Linked DNA regions of Homo sapiens: region 2 is linked to region 1. Evidence: fine-mapped expression QTL. A gene starts in region 1. The other region holds a variant in brackets. All regions are shown on one strand. Distances are between the middles of the regions.

The links. PIP is the estimated chance that this variant, and not a neighbour inherited with it, causes the effect.
Region 2: its variant is the best candidate, but not a certain one, in a credible set for the expression of SLC25A32 in whole blood (TOPMed, PIP 0.69).

The regions. Positions count from the first base shown.
Region 1 is chr8:103,409,736-103,418,722 of GRCh38, reverse strand. SLC25A32 (solute carrier family 25 member 32) reads left to right here and starts at 3,616. Exons shown (of 7, transcript NM_030780.5): 1 at 3,616-3,939. The coding sequence starts at 3,786. It overlaps DCAF13 (DDB1 and CUL4 associated factor 13), which reads right to left and starts at 3,337. Exons shown (of 11, transcript NM_015420.7): 1 at 3,207-3,337. The coding sequence starts at 3,276. RefSeq lists enhancers at 1-115, 3,256-3,595, 3,329-3,950.
Region 2 is chr8:103,225,371-103,234,357 of GRCh38, reverse strand. BAALC (BAALC binder of MAP3K1 and KLF4) reads right to left here. Exons shown (of 3, transcript NM_024812.3): 3 at 4,053-6,369. The coding sequence ends at 6,259. Among named protein-coding and RNA genes, the nearest start is that of BAALC-AS1, 58 kb to the right of the region's middle. The variant T/C (reference allele first, on the strand shown) is at 3,916.

The sequences.
Region 1 (8,987 bases):
TCTGACTCCCTGGTAATGGTGTTATATCTAACATTCAACAAAGCTCTAGCCTAGGTCATTCTTATGTATTCCATCTTCCATATTCCCTACTACCAAAACTCAAAGTCCTACTCATCATCTCTTTGCAACACTTACTCATCTTTCAACTCTCTATTTCTAGTTTTTTGTGTTTTGTTTTTGTTTTTGTTTTGAGATGCGGTATCATTCTGTCACCCAAGCTGGAATGCAGTGATATGACTATAGCCTACTGCAGCCTCAACCTCCAGGGCTTAAGTGATCCTCCCACCTTAGCCTCTCACCTCAGCCTCCCAAGTAGCTTGGACCTGAGGCATGCACCACCATGCCCCATTAATCTTTAAATTTTTTGTAGAGACGGGGGTCTCCTTATGATGCCCAGGCTACTCTCGAACTCCTGGGCTCAAGAGATCCTCCCACCTTTGCCGCCCAAAGTGTTGGGTTTATGAATGTGAGCCACTGCATTCCCAGGCAGTTTGGGTCTTCATTATCTTATACTTGGGCTACTTTAATATCATCCCTACTTGATTTGGCGGCAATTTACACTATTATCAGATGTCTTTTTTTTTCTTTTTTTTTTGAGACGGAGTCTTGCTCTGTTGCCCAGGCTGGAGTGCAGTGGCGCAATCTCGGCTCACTGCAAGCTCCACCTCCCGGGTTCACACCATTCTCCTGCCTCAGCCTCCCGAGTAGCTGGGACTACAGGCACCCGCCACCATGCCCGGCTAATTTATTTATTTTTTTGTATTTTTAGTAGAGATGGGGTTTCACCATGTTAGCCAGGATAGTCTCGATCTCCTGACCTCGTGATCTTCCCGCCTCGGCCTCCCAAAGTGCTGGGATTACAGGCGTGAGCCACTGCGCCCAGCCTATCAGATGTCATCTTAAAACAGCTTTTTACATGTCACTCCCATGCTTAAAACTTCCAAAGGCTCCCTATATAGTAGTCTTCAAACTTTCTGTGTGCCCCATTAATAACAGAGTTTTTGAGCAGATCCCTTCTCAACATATGTGTATGTTAATGAGAGCATGTAATTAAAGATGTTCTTTTTTTTTTTTTTTTTTTGAGACGGAGTCTCCCTCTGTCACCCAGGCTGGAGTGCAGTGACGCAATCTCGGCTCACTGCAAGCTCTGCCTCCTGGGTTCACACCATTCTCCCGCCTCAGCCTCCTGAGTAGCTGTGACTACAGGCACCCAGCACCACGCTGGGCTAATTTTTTTGTATTTTTAGTAGAGACGGGATTTCACTGTGTTAGCCAGGATGGTCTCAATCTCCTGACCTCGTGATCCGCCCGTCTCGGCCTCCCAAAGTGCTGGGATTACAGGCATAAGCCACCACGCCCAGCCAAAGATCTTTTTTTTTAAGAAAAATCTTGATTCAACACTGTGATAGATTTAAAGGTTCTAATTTCAGCTTAATTCAATGTTTGGTTTTAATGGCTACTATTATAAAAAAAATTCAAGCAGTACTCACTTTCGCACTGTACTGTATTAACGGGACGGGTTGCATACTGGAATCAATTCCCCACTTTGCAAAGTTTCGTGGTTAACAGATGTGATTTCAATCACTGTAAACCTCTTAAAGAGTGGGACTGGTTCAGTTAATATGGTACTGTGCAAAGTGCAGAATGCCTGTACTTCACAAAGAAAGCATACCCAAAATGATAATGTCCATAATTGGCCACGTTTATTTAATATATTTAATTTTCAGTCTCATCCATCAGTTTTGCAAAGATTATTTTTGAAGTCTAGAAAATTTCTATCTACTCTGATGTCAGCAGCTGTTCCTACAACTAAAATTAGCATTTTAATAATTTCAACAGAAGTTTAAAAACCCCAACAAGATAGATCATTTTGTTTCTAAATCTCTTCATGTAGGCAAAAATGAATCTTTATAGATGGAGAAACTGACATTTATTAAAGCAACTATGTGCTAGGTGCTGTCTTAACAGTGCATACACGAACATGATTCTTCCCCTTTTTGGAGGCTAAGTCTGATGGGAAAGACTATTAACCAAAATAATAATCATGAGACAATGTGATAAACACTGTGAAGAAGTGATAGAATCACAGAAGACGGGTGCTGAAGGGGGCGGGGCTCATGCAGGAGGTAAGCAGGAACAGATTACTGTTCGGTGAAAGTCTTCCAGAGAAAGCGGCTAAACTGGGTAAGGGTGTGTGCCACAGGAGGCCTTAAAAAAGATGACTGAAACGCACTGAGATTTGCAAGGGTGAATACTAAACCACTTGTGGGAAACGTAGTGACTGACTAAAGTGGCAAGGAAGGTGGGACCAGAGATTCAAGGACTGGGAACGATGCCAAATCCAAGTGACAAATCTAATTTATATTTTAGAAACATTACTGCCTTGTGACAAACTGTAAACATCTTTTGAGCAGAGACTTATTAGCAATGCTCACACACATGTTGATAATATCTCCTACTCAACCAAAATAGTGAAATACTGTTTTCGCCTCATCTCATCTCGCTTACTCCTCATTCAAACTAATGACACAGCCCTTCTTTCTATGCCTTAGGTTCATTCCTGCCTGAAGACCTTTGCTCCTGTTATTCTCTTTATTTAGAACAATCTGCTTACGCATGGTTGGTCCCTTGTCATTTAGGTATCACAAAGTACAATTTATAAGTGGTTAGCATGTTAACGGGGGAACAGACCAGGAAGGATAAATTAATTTCATTTAACCATTCTTTCATCAAACTTCTTAAGGGATGGTAAGAGAAAACTGATGCTTTTAAATTCATCTTTGTCTCTTCCAACATCCACAACTAATGTGAAGTAGTAAAGCGGCAAGAAGAGCAGTAGGAAGGTTTTAAAAGCCTGTTTAACTCTCAGCCCTTCAACCCACGAGTTTGGCTCATTCAAGTCCACTTTTCAGTAATAGGAACCTGAAGACAATCCCAGAGCAGCAGCTGGAATTTTTCTCCACTATAGACAACTGTTTCCCACTCACCACTAGAGGAAATTCTTAGAAAAAGGACTTGAACAGACTTTACTTGCTATCCATCCAGTTCCGCAGCGACTCCGTAAGCACAAAGTTTGCCTTAGCGAAAGGTAACTGAGAAAGAACCAGACCAGAGTGCCAGCCTCCCCCGGCTTTACTCCGCGAAAGCCGAGGCTAGACCCAACGACTTGCGGAAACCGTCCCTTTCTCCCTACCAACTTATCTTACCTCTCTGTAAGTCCAACTTGGTTTCGCGGACATAATTGTCCGGATTCCGGCTCAGCATCTTCACCTTCATCTCGGTTGCTCTTCCGGCCGGACTCCACGAGGTGTCCGCTAGGAGTTCCGCCCACCGCCACCTCCTCCCACAGGCGACTTCCGCTTTTCCCAGACTACTTCCAGTCACGTGACTCGCGGAGCGGCGGCCTGCTGGCTCAACTGGATCCTGCGCCGCTCCGTAGTTTTGCCGGCAAACGTTAGCAAGGGGCGGTTCTTTAGCTGTGCAGTCGCTTCCGCGTCCGTGGGCTGGAGCATTTGTGGGCGAGGCAGGGCGGAGACTCGGGAGAGGCTGGGACCTCCCCTCCATCGCGCTTTCCGCCGGCGTGACGTAGTGTCTGTGCCCCGTTCTTGCCCCCTCAGTACTAGAGTCTCCGGCTTCGCTCACGCGCCTTGGGCATAAGAGTCCTCTCGTTGGTCCCGGAGGTGGGGTTGCGCTCACAAGGGGCGACCGTCGCCACGGTGGCGGCCACTGCATCGCGTCCCACCTCCGCGGCCCTGGGCGCCGTGGTGTCGACGGGCCCCGAGCCTATGACGGGCCAGGGCCAGTCGGCGTCCGGGTCGTCGGCGTGGAGCACGGTATTCCGCCACGTCCGGTATGAGAACCTGATAGCGGGCGTGAGCGGCGGCGTCTTATCCAACCTTGCGCTGCATCCGCTCGACCTCGTGAAGATCCGCTTCGCCGGTAAGAGCCCGCCCAGACACCGGGCTGCATCCTCTCACTGTCAGCCCGAACTGGATCTCCTCCGTCTTTTCCGTTCTAGGGGGAGGAGGAGCGTTGAAGGGAGCGTTGCTGTCCGCGTTGGCTAACCTGAACTAGATTTGAGGAAATGGTGCTTGGTGGAGGGGTCGGCCTGCGATCTTCCCCGCTCCTCAAGACTAAGAGAGGGGGCATGTATGTAGAGAAGTCTGAGAAAAAACATCCTCATTGGCAGAGAAGATGGGATTCAAAGCCTGATTTGTAAAATAAAGAAGGGATTGTCACATTTTAAGGTTTAGTCCTCACACGTGCAAATCATTCACTCTTGGAGGAACTTTGAAATCTTAGCATACCCACGTGGTTTGGCAGCTCGACTAGTATTGGGATAGGGCGTAATCTTCAGCGAATGGTTGGGAGTAGATTTAGAATAGAATTCTCTTGAATGTTTGTTTTTTGGCATTTGTAGAATGGTACAAGTTTCTGTGAAAAAATAGCTAGAATCGAAATACTATTTTAAGTGTATTAGATGAATTGAGTATGTTGAAATTAACAAAGCATTTTAGAAGTTAAACTCAACACTAAAGTCTGGAAAGAGTTTCAAAGATGATCTTTGATAACTGAAATTGCAGAAAATAGTTTCCAAATAAAGTTATTACAAGTTAAGTTCAGCCTTGAGAATTAAATCTACAGAAGTTGTTTATTTTAGCATTAGGCAATTCAGTTCACTTGATTTATATTCTCTTAATATTTGTAGACTGCTGTATGGGCTACAGAAGTATCTAATAAAGTTCTTGCCTTCAGGGAACTTAGAATTTAATTGTAGGCGTTAGACTTAGTCATATAAAAGGTAATTCTAGACAACATAAAATCAAGAAATACAAAAACAAAATATAAATACAGGTAAACCGTTAAGAAAATTCTACATTACTGATGGCCATGTGTATCTTTAAGGTTCAGTGGAAGATTGGGGCTTGGGGTTTCCCATAGAAGGGCTAATATTTTGACAGCTGGAGAGGAAGCAAGAACCCGTTCTATGAAGGAAAATCATCGAAAATTATGGAGTATTATCTCTAGAAAAAACACCACAAAGACATATAATGTCATGAAGTTTTATGATGCATGCACAAATAATTATGTTATTGACAAGTAATCTTTATCGAGTATTTACTAGGAGCAAGGCAGTGAACTATGCTTTAGATGCATTATCTCATTTATTATCCTGTAAATCTATTCACAGGAACAATCCTGTGAGTTTATGATATCTGCTATACAGATGAGGATAACAGAAGTTGACTAACTTGCCCAAGTCACAAGTTTGTAAAGATGGATCTGGGATTTAAACCCAGGTAATCTAACTCTGGAACCCTCTGGCACTTAACCCCTCACCGTATTACCTCTATAAGTACCTGTTATACAATGGTTTGAACATTGGAAGAATTTTAGACTTGCCTGCAGGTGCAGGCCTGTATGACTTGCTGTCTGTCTTCAGTAGCATTTTATCTAGGAGCAGAAGAGGTGATAGTCGAGGTGATCATTGAAGAATAGTGTGGTTGGCCTGATGAGTTTAGACAGTGCTTTGAAGCATATCATTCCTGAGGAAAGGGAATTCTTGGTACCTGAGAAGATTAATAGTCTTGATGAATTGGGAAGAGTATTAGGAGACTAGTGGGGCTGAGGTGACAGATAAAAGGATTGAGTTTGGATTGGAGGCCTAAATTAAAGATCCAGGAGTGGAAGCAGGACTTTGTAATAATAAAGCTCACAGTGTAGCTGTGAAATGGTGATAGGAGGAAAACTTAAGAAGATGAATAACGAAATAAAAATTTATTGATTATCAACATCAGTGCTGAGTAACATACTATAATTTTTATGCTTCCATGTAATTAAACTCATTTAATAAAGTTAAAATCTAATGATGACAGGGTGTGGGGGTTAATTCTGAATGCATGTGCTATTAAACCAAACCTGGAATTTTTCTGTGAGTTCAAGTATAAATTGGAACTCAGAGGTGTCCAGAGTGGTAGAAAGATTAGAAATTACTTCATATGAAAAATGACTGGAGGAACTAGTTTAGCTCGGGAGAGAAAAAAACCTCAAGATATTTAGAGAACTTACATGTGGGAAAGGGGGCTGCCTTATTGTGGGTTGATCCTAAGGTCAGACACAGGTTGAGTGGAAATTACAAGGAAGCAGATTTTGGTTTGGCAATGTGGCAGTGCTCAGAAATGAAATTGATGATGATCAGAAGTGGTTCAGATAGTAGTTGGATGACAGAAGTTAGAAGATATTCTTGTATTAGGTGGAAAGATTGGATTGGATGATTATTCAGGCCCCTTCTAACTTTACTCTGTAATTTTAAACCCTCAAGAATGATGAGAGAGCCCCAACAAAGAATGAGATGTAAAAATAGTAATTTTCTCAAATACCCAAAAGCCTAATCTGCAAGTTAAAGTTGTGTGTGAGCTTTTGTGAAGAATGTAGAGACTATGACTACATCCAAAATATTAAGGAACCAAAACGTAAAATTCAGTAACAGTAGTGCCGAGTAAAGTTGTGTAAGTATGTGGTATCGCAAGACCCAGTAGCATAAATAAACTAGTACTTACAGAGTGCTTGCAATATGTCAGGCATAATTCTAAGAGCTTTATATGTACTAACTGATTTAATCCTTTATAATTTTTAGAGTTAGGTTCTATTATTTTTTCCTATCTTACAGAAAAACTCAGGCACAGAGCAATCAAGTGACTTACTCAGGGTTGCAAAGTAATTGCTAGAACTGGGATTCAAGCTCAGAAAGTCTGTTTCCGTAACATATGCTGTTAGTTTGAAACCATGAGTGGGTAGTTTGGTATAGCTAAAGGGTAAATTAAAATGCTAGAGATGGAAATAAAGAATGATTCCAGAAAGTTAAGCTGCCAGATTGACATTATCTTTTATGCCATGTGAAAATGGAAACTGGCAGTAGAACCACAACCCTTAGTAGGGCAGGATGTTAGGAATAAGAGACCAGGACTAGAAGCACAGGGATGGCAGTTGAAGCCACTTAATGGTTGAGACACCACCCCTATTTGGTGGAAATTGTGCCTATAAATCAGCATTTAAGGATGGGCAGAGAAAAGGGGGCCAAGGAAATTTATTGGCAAAGAAGCAAGAGGACATTCAAGAAAATGTGGTGTTAAATGAGCCAGAAGAGAGGGATTTACACAATATCAGGTGTATTAAGGGGTTCCTAAGAAAGAGAGAACTCCAAAGTGCCTTTGAAGGTTCTTAATTAGAGCGCTTGCAGTAATTGGTAAAGCTCAAACCAGATTGCAGCAGGGGTGAGAGAGTCCCTGCTGAGATTGTCTCGGGGGCCAGGGAGGGGCTGGTTTTCTCATTGCAGACACTTACCTGATAAGGGGGCACTGAGATCAAAGAGGAAATACTTAGGAGAGACTTAAGTCTATTTAAATACTAATGGGAAAGAACTGAAATCAAGGAAGAAATTGGGAAATGGAGGCAGGAGGATAAAGAGTAACGTATCTAACTAAGGTGGGTTATCTGAAGAAGCAGGATCTAGAACAAGCATTTTTGACCAGAACGCTTAGTAGGAAATAAATTTTACCTTTGCTATCCACACACAAACATTACTGAAACACAAGTTTCATGAAACATTACTTATCCTTAACTACTTGTAATGTCATTTATATTTGTTTTCAATTCCAGTCTGGTTTTAAAGAAAAGATACTGGCAATCTGTTCAATTGGTTTCTTGATTCATCTGCAATTTTAAAAACACCAATATAGAGCACAGGTAGGGGGGAGATTAATTTTATTAAGAGAGACAAACTTGTCACAGAGGAAAGGAGGGGTAAAACTAACATCCAGCAAATGAAACAGGTTGTGTAAGGGTGATAGTGCTAGATGATAATTTTTTTAAAGTCATTATATTGTCTTTCTTTGAAAATGAATTTAAAATTAGTGTCCTGTCTTGGCTCCTTTCTGTACACCAAACTTTTTATCTTCAGCTTGTGTCCATTGGCATTTTTTTAGTGCTGTGATAGGCCATTGTAAGTTATTTGATAGGTACTTAGATCTACATACTAATTCATTAGTGGCAAATGTTTTTAAAATGATCATGAGGTCATTTAAGCCAGTGGTCCCTAACCTTTTTGGCACCAGGGACTGATTTCATGGAAGACAATTTTTCCATGAACGGGGGTGGAGGAGGTATGGATGATTTCAGGATGAAACTGTTTCACCTCAGATCATCAGGCAATAAATTCTCATAAGGAGTGTGCAGCCTAGATCCCTTGCATGTGCAGTTCACAATAGGGTTCGAGATTCTGTAAGAACCCAATGCCACCACTGATCGGACAGGAGGCAGAGTTCAGGCAGTAATGCAAGCAATGGGGAGCAGCTGTAAGTACAGATGAAGCTTCGCTCGTACTCCGCCCACCTAGGTCACCTGCTGCTGTGTGACCCAATTCCTAACAGGCCATGGATTGGTACCCGGAGTTGGGGACCCCTGATTTAGACCAAAAAAATTTACTGTATTTTATCGATATAACAATTTTAATTTTATGTTAGGGAGATTATAGTTCAGCATTGGTTTATACCTATGAAAAGAACAGGTAGTGTTTTTATGGTTGGTTTTGCTTTTTACCTCAAGAGAGAAATGGTATTGTGAGTTTATTATTGAGAGGAAAATGGAAAGTTCTTAGAAAAAGGGATCTATACAGAAGAATGAGACACACAGAATCCAGGGGAAGCATCAGAAAGTTTATAAACTATGCAGGAAAACCTTTCTCAAGAGCCTGTCATTCTGCTGCCTGCCTTTAAACTTGTTGTCTTATATAAACCTCAAAAAACCCGGTGAGGTACATGATTTATCCCCATTTTATAAGTGAGGATGCTGAAGCTCAGAAAGGGTAAGACCATGTAGCGAATTAGGGAGGTTACGTATCAAACCCAGGTCTTCTGACAAAACCTGATGTACTTTAATCTCCCTTCATGCTGTAACGTTGGCAGGTTAATGATGAAAGAAATTGACTT
Region 2 (8,987 bases), 180 kb after region 1:
ATGTTGCCCAAGCTGGTCTTAAATTCCTGGCATCAAGTGATCCTCCTGCCTCAGCCTCCCAAAGTACTGGGATTACAGGTATGAGCCAACGTGCTCAGTTCTTCAAGCAGAACTTTCTGACTTCCCTTTTTTTCCTGAAAGCATATAAAACTCCCATGTAAAAGATGCCCTCTCTGTACCAGGAGGAAAGAAATATCTTTATCACCAGAGACAGAGACAATTCTCTGTAAACAACCGAATTTTGTTAAAACAACTCTTATCTTTCTTTAGCTTTCCTGTATATTTTAATTACTTTTTCACAATTGCCTCACTTTGTCCAACATAGTAGGAAAGCATTGAGATTTTGCAACTTCTTTGGGCCGTCGTTTCTTTATAAAGTCTCTCAACTCACATAAAACTTAAAATTAAGTAAATCTGTATGTTCCTCTCCTGCTAGTCTGTTTTGTGTCAATCTAATTCTCAGGCCCTGCTGGGGTTCCTATGAAGGTAGAGGTAAAGCTTTGTCTGCCCTACACCATCCAACATAGTATCACTAATTCTATTTCAACCAGCAGTGTCTGACATTACTTCTTTCCCACACCCTTCCCAACACTGATATTATCACATTTTAAAAACTTTGCTAATCAGATAGGTTAAAAAGTGGCATCTCTTTTTTTAACCCAAATTTGCCTAATTACTGATGACACTGAGGATTTTTTGTATTTTTCTTGGCCATTCAACTTTCCTCCTGCCTGTTCATGTTATTTTCTCTTGGTCATTTGTCTTTTGCTTATGAAATTCTCATTTTTCTTAATGTATATCACTATACTAACTCTTTGATACATGGGCTGTAGATATCTTCTAATAGACTATTATTCATCTTTATGTGAATGTTTATCATACAGAGGTTTTAAATTTCAATGTGGTTACCTGCGCCCTGGATCTGTTCTCTTCTCACTTCCTCAAGGACTTTTTTACTCCGTGGATAATGCCCCTACCCTTCCAGCTTCAACCTCACCCTAAGGAATCCTTGCAATTGTTGAGAAACATACTCTAGTATGTCCCACGTTTTACAACTTCTTCTTGACCCGTCTCTTTCTCCAATTGCTGGCCTCTTTTTGCTTTGTTTCATAGCAACATTTCTCAAAAGACAGTTTTTTTCATTCCCTCCACTTCCTCACCACCCCTCCCGTCATCATCCTCTGTAGTCTGGCTCTATGACCACCTCTCTGCTGGAATTGTTCTTGTTAAGATCACCAGTCACCTTCATGGTGCTAGTTGGAGTCACATCTCTGTTCTCACGTGATTTAACCTTTTGGCAGCATTCACCGTGACTGACCATTTCTCCCTTCATGAAACATTTTTTTTTAGTGTTGGCTTCAGTAAGTGAGCTCCCTGTTTTCTTCCTAACTGCCTCAGCACTTCTCAGTACCCTCTGCTGACTCTTCCTCCACCACCAACTCCCTGAATGTTGGGGTGTCTCCCGGCACAGCCCTAGACTTTCCTCAGTAGCTTCTCATCAGGTGAACTAACTCCTGTGCCATTAAATATCTTCCATGTGTTGATGACCCCCAAATGCACAGCTCTACCCTTGACCAATTCCTTGAACTTTAGACTCGTACATCCAATTCCCTACTGGACACCTCCCCTTGGTTATTTCATACTTAATGGGTCCAAAATGGTTCTTTTTGATTTTCACTGCCTCCCCAAAAAAAACTTTTCCCACCCTGTTTTCCCCTATCTTGCCAAAAACCCTGTTGCTCAAACCAAAAAACTTAGGAATCACCCTGATTTCTCCCTTGACTTCACTTTCTACACCCAGTCCATCAGCAAGTCCCAATGTTTCCATTTCCAAAATGTTCTCAGCATCCACCTATTTTCATCCGTCTTTGCAACCATTACCCTATTCCTTGCACTGACATCTCTTCCCAGGACTATAGCTGTAGCCTCCTAAATGGTCTCCTGCTCCCTTCCTGCTTCCGTCCAGCTCATTCTCCTATTAACATTCTTTTCAGCATTTATCCCCATCTTAAGTTACTGTAATGACTTATTTCTTTATGTCGTTATTTTCTGTTTCCTCTACTATTTTGCCATCTCCGTGAGGGTAGGGACCAGATATGTTGTATCTCTCACCACATCCCAACTTCTGGCACATTGAAGAGTCTCAGTAAATACATTTGGATTAAATAAATGAGCAAGTGAATGCATGATTTTAAATATTAGGTAATATTCATAATTTGCTCAGAAAATTCTCCTGAGATTGGCCACTTCCCAGACTGGTGAAACAGGAGAAAAGGACCTTGTATATCTCAATGACTCCTGAAAAGAGTGTAAAAACAACATGTTTGGGAACATACAGTGGAGCAGGAGTTACAAGCTCAAATGTCTCTGGGTTCTGGCAGGTAACAGAAATGGGGAGGTTACCATGTGTAAGCCACAATGAGTGGTAGCGACCATCACAATCTGGAGACCCTCCCAGCTCCAGCTAATGCAGACTCATCAGCTCCAGCCAGATGTGGCCAAGCAGCCAAGGCCCCAAGGGTGAGCGATCTTCCAATTTTTTGAAAGATGGAAGTATATGCATACAAATTAGAATTAGTTTTGTTCAATTTCTCAGACTTGAAAAGAAAAAGAATCAGTTTTGGCTGTGAGTAATCATTTGAAACAGCAACTTAAATGAAGTAAAGTATATTTCTTTCCCACAAAAAGAGGTTTGTGGTATATAGTCCAAGACTCATGAAACTCTATGGAATTAGGGACCCATGCTTCTTCTAACTTGTTGCTCATCTTGGCATGGCTTTCATTCTCGAAGTTGCTTTATGGCCCAATGGACTGAGGTAACTCCAGCCATTACCTCCTCATTCTGCACACCAGGAAGCAAAAGGGGAAAGAAAGAGCCTGACTTCCTGGAAGCTTCTATGCCTCACTTTTATTTCATTTCATTATCTAGAACTTAATCATGCTGCAACTTCTAGCTGCAAGGGAGGCTGGAAAGTGTAATGTTTGTTCTAAGTGGACATGTGCTCAACTAAGAAAGAAGAGAAGGATGGATACTGGAGTTCTAAAGTAGGAGTCTATGCCAGAGCTGGCTATTTATGTGAAATTCCTAAGTAAGTTTTGACACCATGACGGCTAAACACAGCAGCTCTGTCACCTGATTTCAGCAGAGGAGCTTCCAGTGTTGTGAACCGTGCTTAGAGCAGTAAATGTGAATGGGATGCACTTCAGTGTCACATGGGGCAGCCCGCAAGTCTGGCTGGTGAGGATCAAAAACAGATGCAGGTTAGCAGGACTCAGACAGGCAGTGCAAACGGGGGTGTGTTCAGGTACCCTGGGAGGTGGGGGTGGGTTGTGGAAAGCACTGTGAAAGTGGGCCATGAATAAAGGGTGAGGGGCTACTGTCTCTTACCTGTACATCCAAGCTGTGCTCAGGACATTGGCAGCAACGTGGGAGGTCCCTGGCTTCCCTTACCTTTAGGTCTAAGCAGATATCCCAAGGGGTGCAATTTCTATTTTCTCTGAATTATAAAGTCCCTCTCAGTGTTCTGACCTCTCACACCAGGTCAAGGTCACTCTCTCTGGAGGGATAAGTGAGCCTGAACCAGAACCAAATTCCCTGAGAACTCACTGGCCCTTTCCAATCACTGTCTTCACTACCAGCCCTCTTCAATCCTCTCTCTCTAGCCCCCTCCAATCACCCAAATTATCCTTTTAGACTTGGACTCAGCCCAGCCTGAGGCTCCATGACAATTCCCCTCTAAATGGCCTCATCTCTCAGTTACACCAGACCTTCTTGCCATGGTGGCACCATGTGGTGGCAGGAAAAGAACTAAATTTGCAGACAGGCTTCCCCCACTTGAATTTCTGCACCAAAAGTTACTAGTTGACTGGACTATAAATATTTCCATAAGTGTAAATTGGTGCTAATAGCATTCT[T/C]CTTACCTACTTCACAAGGCTTTTTGGAGGATTCACAGGGTTCACTTATGTAAAAGGTCTTCATTTTTAAAAACTAGTCTAAATAGTTCTGCATACAAATTTAAGGTTTCAGTAAAGATTCTCTGTAACTGCCCATATATGTTTAAAATTAATGACTTTATTGACACAAACTTTGCAATGAAAAGTGGTATCCTAATAGGATAGTAAGGATTAGTTTCTGTCTCATACATACATGAAAAAGTAGCCAGATGCATTTTTAGTCACATGGTTTAACTTCTGGTTGCTGTCTCCGTGAAATCCAGATTGTTCTGGGGAGGGCCAGATCATGTGCCCTGCATTTCCTTCTCCCCTGTAAGTGAGAAAGTGTTTCTATATAAAACAGAGACACTTTCTTAAGGTGATAAATTCCAAACAACATGCAGCAGTGAACTGATGCAGAAACAAAGCTGTAAAGAGAAGCCACAAAGCACATCCCCAGGGAGAAAGAGCCCTTGAACTTGCAGGATCACTGCCAACCTTTGGCAGCTGGGGGCTCCTGCTGAGTAATGCCAGTGGGGACATATGAATCACAGGTTTTTCTTTTATCTTATTATTGTTAAAAACATTTTTTAGAACATAAAGTTCCTAAAAGCCCTTTCTCAAAGAATCACAAAATGATGAAGGTTTAGAAAAACTATAGTTGCGTGTATGGTAAAGTCTTGTACATTGATTAGAACACCTAGTTTAAGACACAAACCTACCCTGAATATAAAAGTTTCCATTGCAGAGTGATTTGCAACACACACTATACCTTAAGGGTCTAATTCAGTCTCCTAGTTATGAAGTCACTGTTAGATTCAGGATAGATAGTCACGACTAACCAGACCCCAAATCCCTCAACATCTGCATAGTACCTGGCACAGGATGGACATTTAATGTTTTGTGAATAAATATACAATCTGCCAATGGAAGGAAGGAAGGAAAAATGACACTACCCACTTGTGTTTGAAGAATAACAGAGTTAGCAGATAAGGAGGTTGCGTATCTGACTTTTGACCTGCATGTCAGTTCTCTGGACTATGTTACATAAACATAACACCAATAGGCTGCCTATTTCTGCTAAACATGGAATTTATTGATATAGTTTGGCACAACTTTAGTCCTATCTTTCCCAATCCCAGGCATGTTAACAATCCTTGAAAAATCATGCTACATTACTTTGGAGGAAAATACTTCCAGATGAACATGTTTCAAGACATACTAGAAAATTATTCCTATCAAAACATCCTTTTTCTGTGTCAGCTACCTCATTTCTAATGCAGTGCACATCAATCTAATGTCAGTATGAATACACATCAACCAGGTGCTGGCTTTCTAAAGTGATTCCTTTGCAGATGCCAAAATGACAGTCCTGGGGCAGTGTACAGAGAGGCCAAGGGGAAGCCATGCCTGCTGCCACATGTCTCTGGATCATCTCCCTCTCCTACGCAGTGTTCAATCTTTGATTAACAATTGCAAGTGACCCCGATAGAGAGGGAAGACAGTCAAGAAGACAAGCAAAGGGAACTGGAAAGCTATGCAAAATTGCAATGTCTAGCTGAGCCCTGAGGGGTATCCTTATTTGGATGCATTGGCCACAAGCATGGTGACATTAAGGACTGGAGGCCAACATGGACACTGGAATAGGAGGACTTTCCAGGCAGATGAGGAGCAGGTATGACTGCTTCACAGACACCTCCCAAAGACATGCCATGGGCAGTGGGTTGGTGCATGGGAAACTGGATCCGATCTGTCTCATACCAAGCTAAGGAAACAAGGATAACAAGGAGTTTTCCTGTACCTTGATTTTTTCAATATGTGGGTTTAGAGTTGGATGAAAGCCAGCTTTTAAGTGAACCTGGTAAGATTTGTAATGACAATATTTAAAATGAAAGAAGGAAAGAATAAGCTTGCCTGAAACAGAATACACTATCATGGGCAGGAGAGTTATAGCACTAAGGTGTGACTCTTTCACCCAGAAAATGCATTCCTACTTTTCTGTTTCATAAACTGACCTGTAGCTTTAACTCACTACTTTTACACCAGACCGTATTACAGGAGTTGCAAAGAGACAAACTGAACTGCACATTTGCAGTTTATTAACATATGTAAGCACTGTGCCAATACATTTACATGATAAGTAGAAGGCTCAGAAGGTCCCAACAAATCAGGCAGCAGTTTGCTGCCAGGTAAGACAGTCTTGCCAGGGACTCAGTAGAATTCAGGTCCAGCAAGGGGCAGCCACTTCTTCAAGGTTCTTTGATGGGATCCAGTGCCGTGAAGGACACTGAAGAAGTCCATCTGCCCTTCTGCTTGGACTCTCTGCTAGTTGACACAGTTCTTTGTGATTCTTCGACTTCTGTCCATCTGTTGGATGCTATCTGTTACATTAATGGTGACTTCTTTTGCAGGCATTCTCTTAGCATCTCTTTTAGCCTGTTAAGTTGAAAACAGTGAATTGAGTTACTAGGAAATGTAAACCAAAGAAAATGACCGAGGCAAGTCTCAATCAATTTAGAGGTTTATTGTGCCATAGTTGAGAATGTGCCTGGGAAAAAGGAACATAAATCACAGGAACATTTGTGATCTGTGCAAAAATTCCCAAAGAGGGTTTGAGGACTTCACTATTTAAGGGGGAAAGAGTGGGCAGTAAGGGAAAGAGGAAAGGAAAAGGGAGGGTAGAGAATAGGGGCAAACAGTTACATTCTTTTGAGGCTTTGATGAGCATTCACTGAATCCACATTTTATGTGTGAAAGGAGGGGATAGAGGAACAGTCAAATATGCATTTGTCTCATGCTCAATGAACTTGCATTTTTTACATAAGATAAAAGAAACATAGAATAGTTAATGAGTAAAATATGCATTTGTCTCAAGTGAGCAGAGGGATGACTCCTAGTCCTGTCTTTGTCCCATACCTGTGAAGATAAGCTGTTAATTTACATGGGGTGAAATCCAACAGAACTCTGTTTTAGGGTAAAGATCTTAGGGCCCACAAGGAATTTCTTTGTAAGAAATTGTGAGGGAGTCCCCCTGGAAGGTATGTGGCCTTCTATCTTTGCAGTTATCTGTTTAGGAACAAAATGGAAGGCAGTTTTGGGTGGCTTAGCTCCTAAGCTTAACTTTCCCTTTCCATAGTGAGTTTGGGGTCCTGAGATTTTTATTTTCCTTTCACAGAAATATACGAAGGTCCTCACAATTTGCATTAATCTCTTGAGATTATCACAAATACACACACACACATACACGCACACACACAGTCAGGAAGAATGACCCACAAGAACGCATGCACATATGCTTCCTATCAGAGGTTTCTTTGTTGAATCTTTAATACCAACACAGCACAGAGCCTGGAATAGGGCATGTTTATTAAAACACTGTTGAGTGAATGAGCTATGGTCCATCAAAGGGTAATGTGAAAGTTTTCATAGTTGGCTTTAGTAGAGTGGTTAAGTGTTTGAGCTTTGGAGTCAGAGAGACTTTGGTTCAAATACTGGCTATATGATTTCACTATGGGCAAGTTTTTCCAACTCTCTAACCCTTATCTGTAAAATGGGGAATAATAATATTATCTCTCTCATAAGGTTTTTATATGGATTAAATAAGGTAATGCATGTAAGGTACTTAGTACAATGACTGTCACTAAATGAAAATGGGAAAAAAATAAGCTTAAAAAGTAGGATAGACTATCTACTTCTAACTAAGGATAAACCAATGACAAAAGTTCTGAATTAATATTAAACATTAAAGCATTAATTAAATTGTAGGTTCTTTAAGTATATGTGTCCAGTCCCTGACTCTCCATCCCCTAAAAGAGAAAACAGCATTGGTGAGGGGCAGTGTTGTGCCTATTCTTGTGATTGTGTGCTGGGGGTGAACACGAGTGGGCTTGTGAGTCACCTCCACTAGTGGATGGACACAGTTATTTGCTGCCCAGCCCCATTCCAGAAATGACCTGCTGCCTCGCTGCAGGGAGAACAGTCAGCAAGTAGCCTCCAGCTGGGGACAGCATCAGCTGCAGAGAGCCACCTCACTCAAGTTTGTGCCCTTCCCAAGATGGGCCAATGTGCAGGTAAATGGAAGGGCATAAAGGTCTGACCATTTGGGCCCTAAACAGGTCAGCTCCCACAAGCCATTTAGCTGCATGGAGCAGGGGTCGCTGAAGCTGTTGTCAGCTTGCATTGTGGCTGGACTTCTCCCTTAACCCACTCCTGCTTCCATCATCCCTTTCCACAGGCGTTGGCCTCAAGGGCACTTCCTAACATCCTGTATAATGACATCTTGGTCTGCCTCCTGGGAACATAGTCTGCCTCAGATCCTGTGGGAACACCCCTCCAGGCATGAGCACCTCCTTGTGCTGGGTGTTGAGAGATGCACATTTTTCAAACAACATGGCCCCTGAACACAAACTACTTCCTCTGTAGTGCATCCAAATAAATGGTGAACTATTGCACTGATGGAGAAAAATCCATTGTTCTGTTGTATTTATTAGCAAACGATATGTATGTTTCTAATATGTCACATAAATCCTGTGTCCTTGTGTAGCTGATGGCGACACCCCTCTCTAGATCCCCTTTACTCTGCCAGAGCATCCCTCCCAGCTGCTGTGACTGTTGGCTGCTAACTGCTCACAGCACACCCTTCTTTTGAGAATTGCCCTCATCTGATTGGAGCCACCTCCTCCAGGAATGCCAAAGAGGCCCATATCCTGGATAGGCCCATATCCCATGCCTGATTGTTAGGATAAAAAAGGCTGCCCCTTAGCCTCTTGGGGGTACAAATCCATGGTGCTTTGCTTGCCCCAGGTCTCCTTGTGGGATCTGGCTGAGGCTAGACTACAGCTGTTCCGCTGACTGAACTCACACATTTGCTGAATCTGATCCCCTGCCCTGCCCTGCTTCCTCCATTACCATGCAGGTTTCACCTGAGTGTACTTTTTCAATTACTTGCATGAGAATTACTTGCATCCTTTCAATTACTTACATCCTTATCTCAGGTTCTGCGTTTAGGGAACCTAACCAAAGATCATACTTTATGGGTGATTTGAGGAACATTT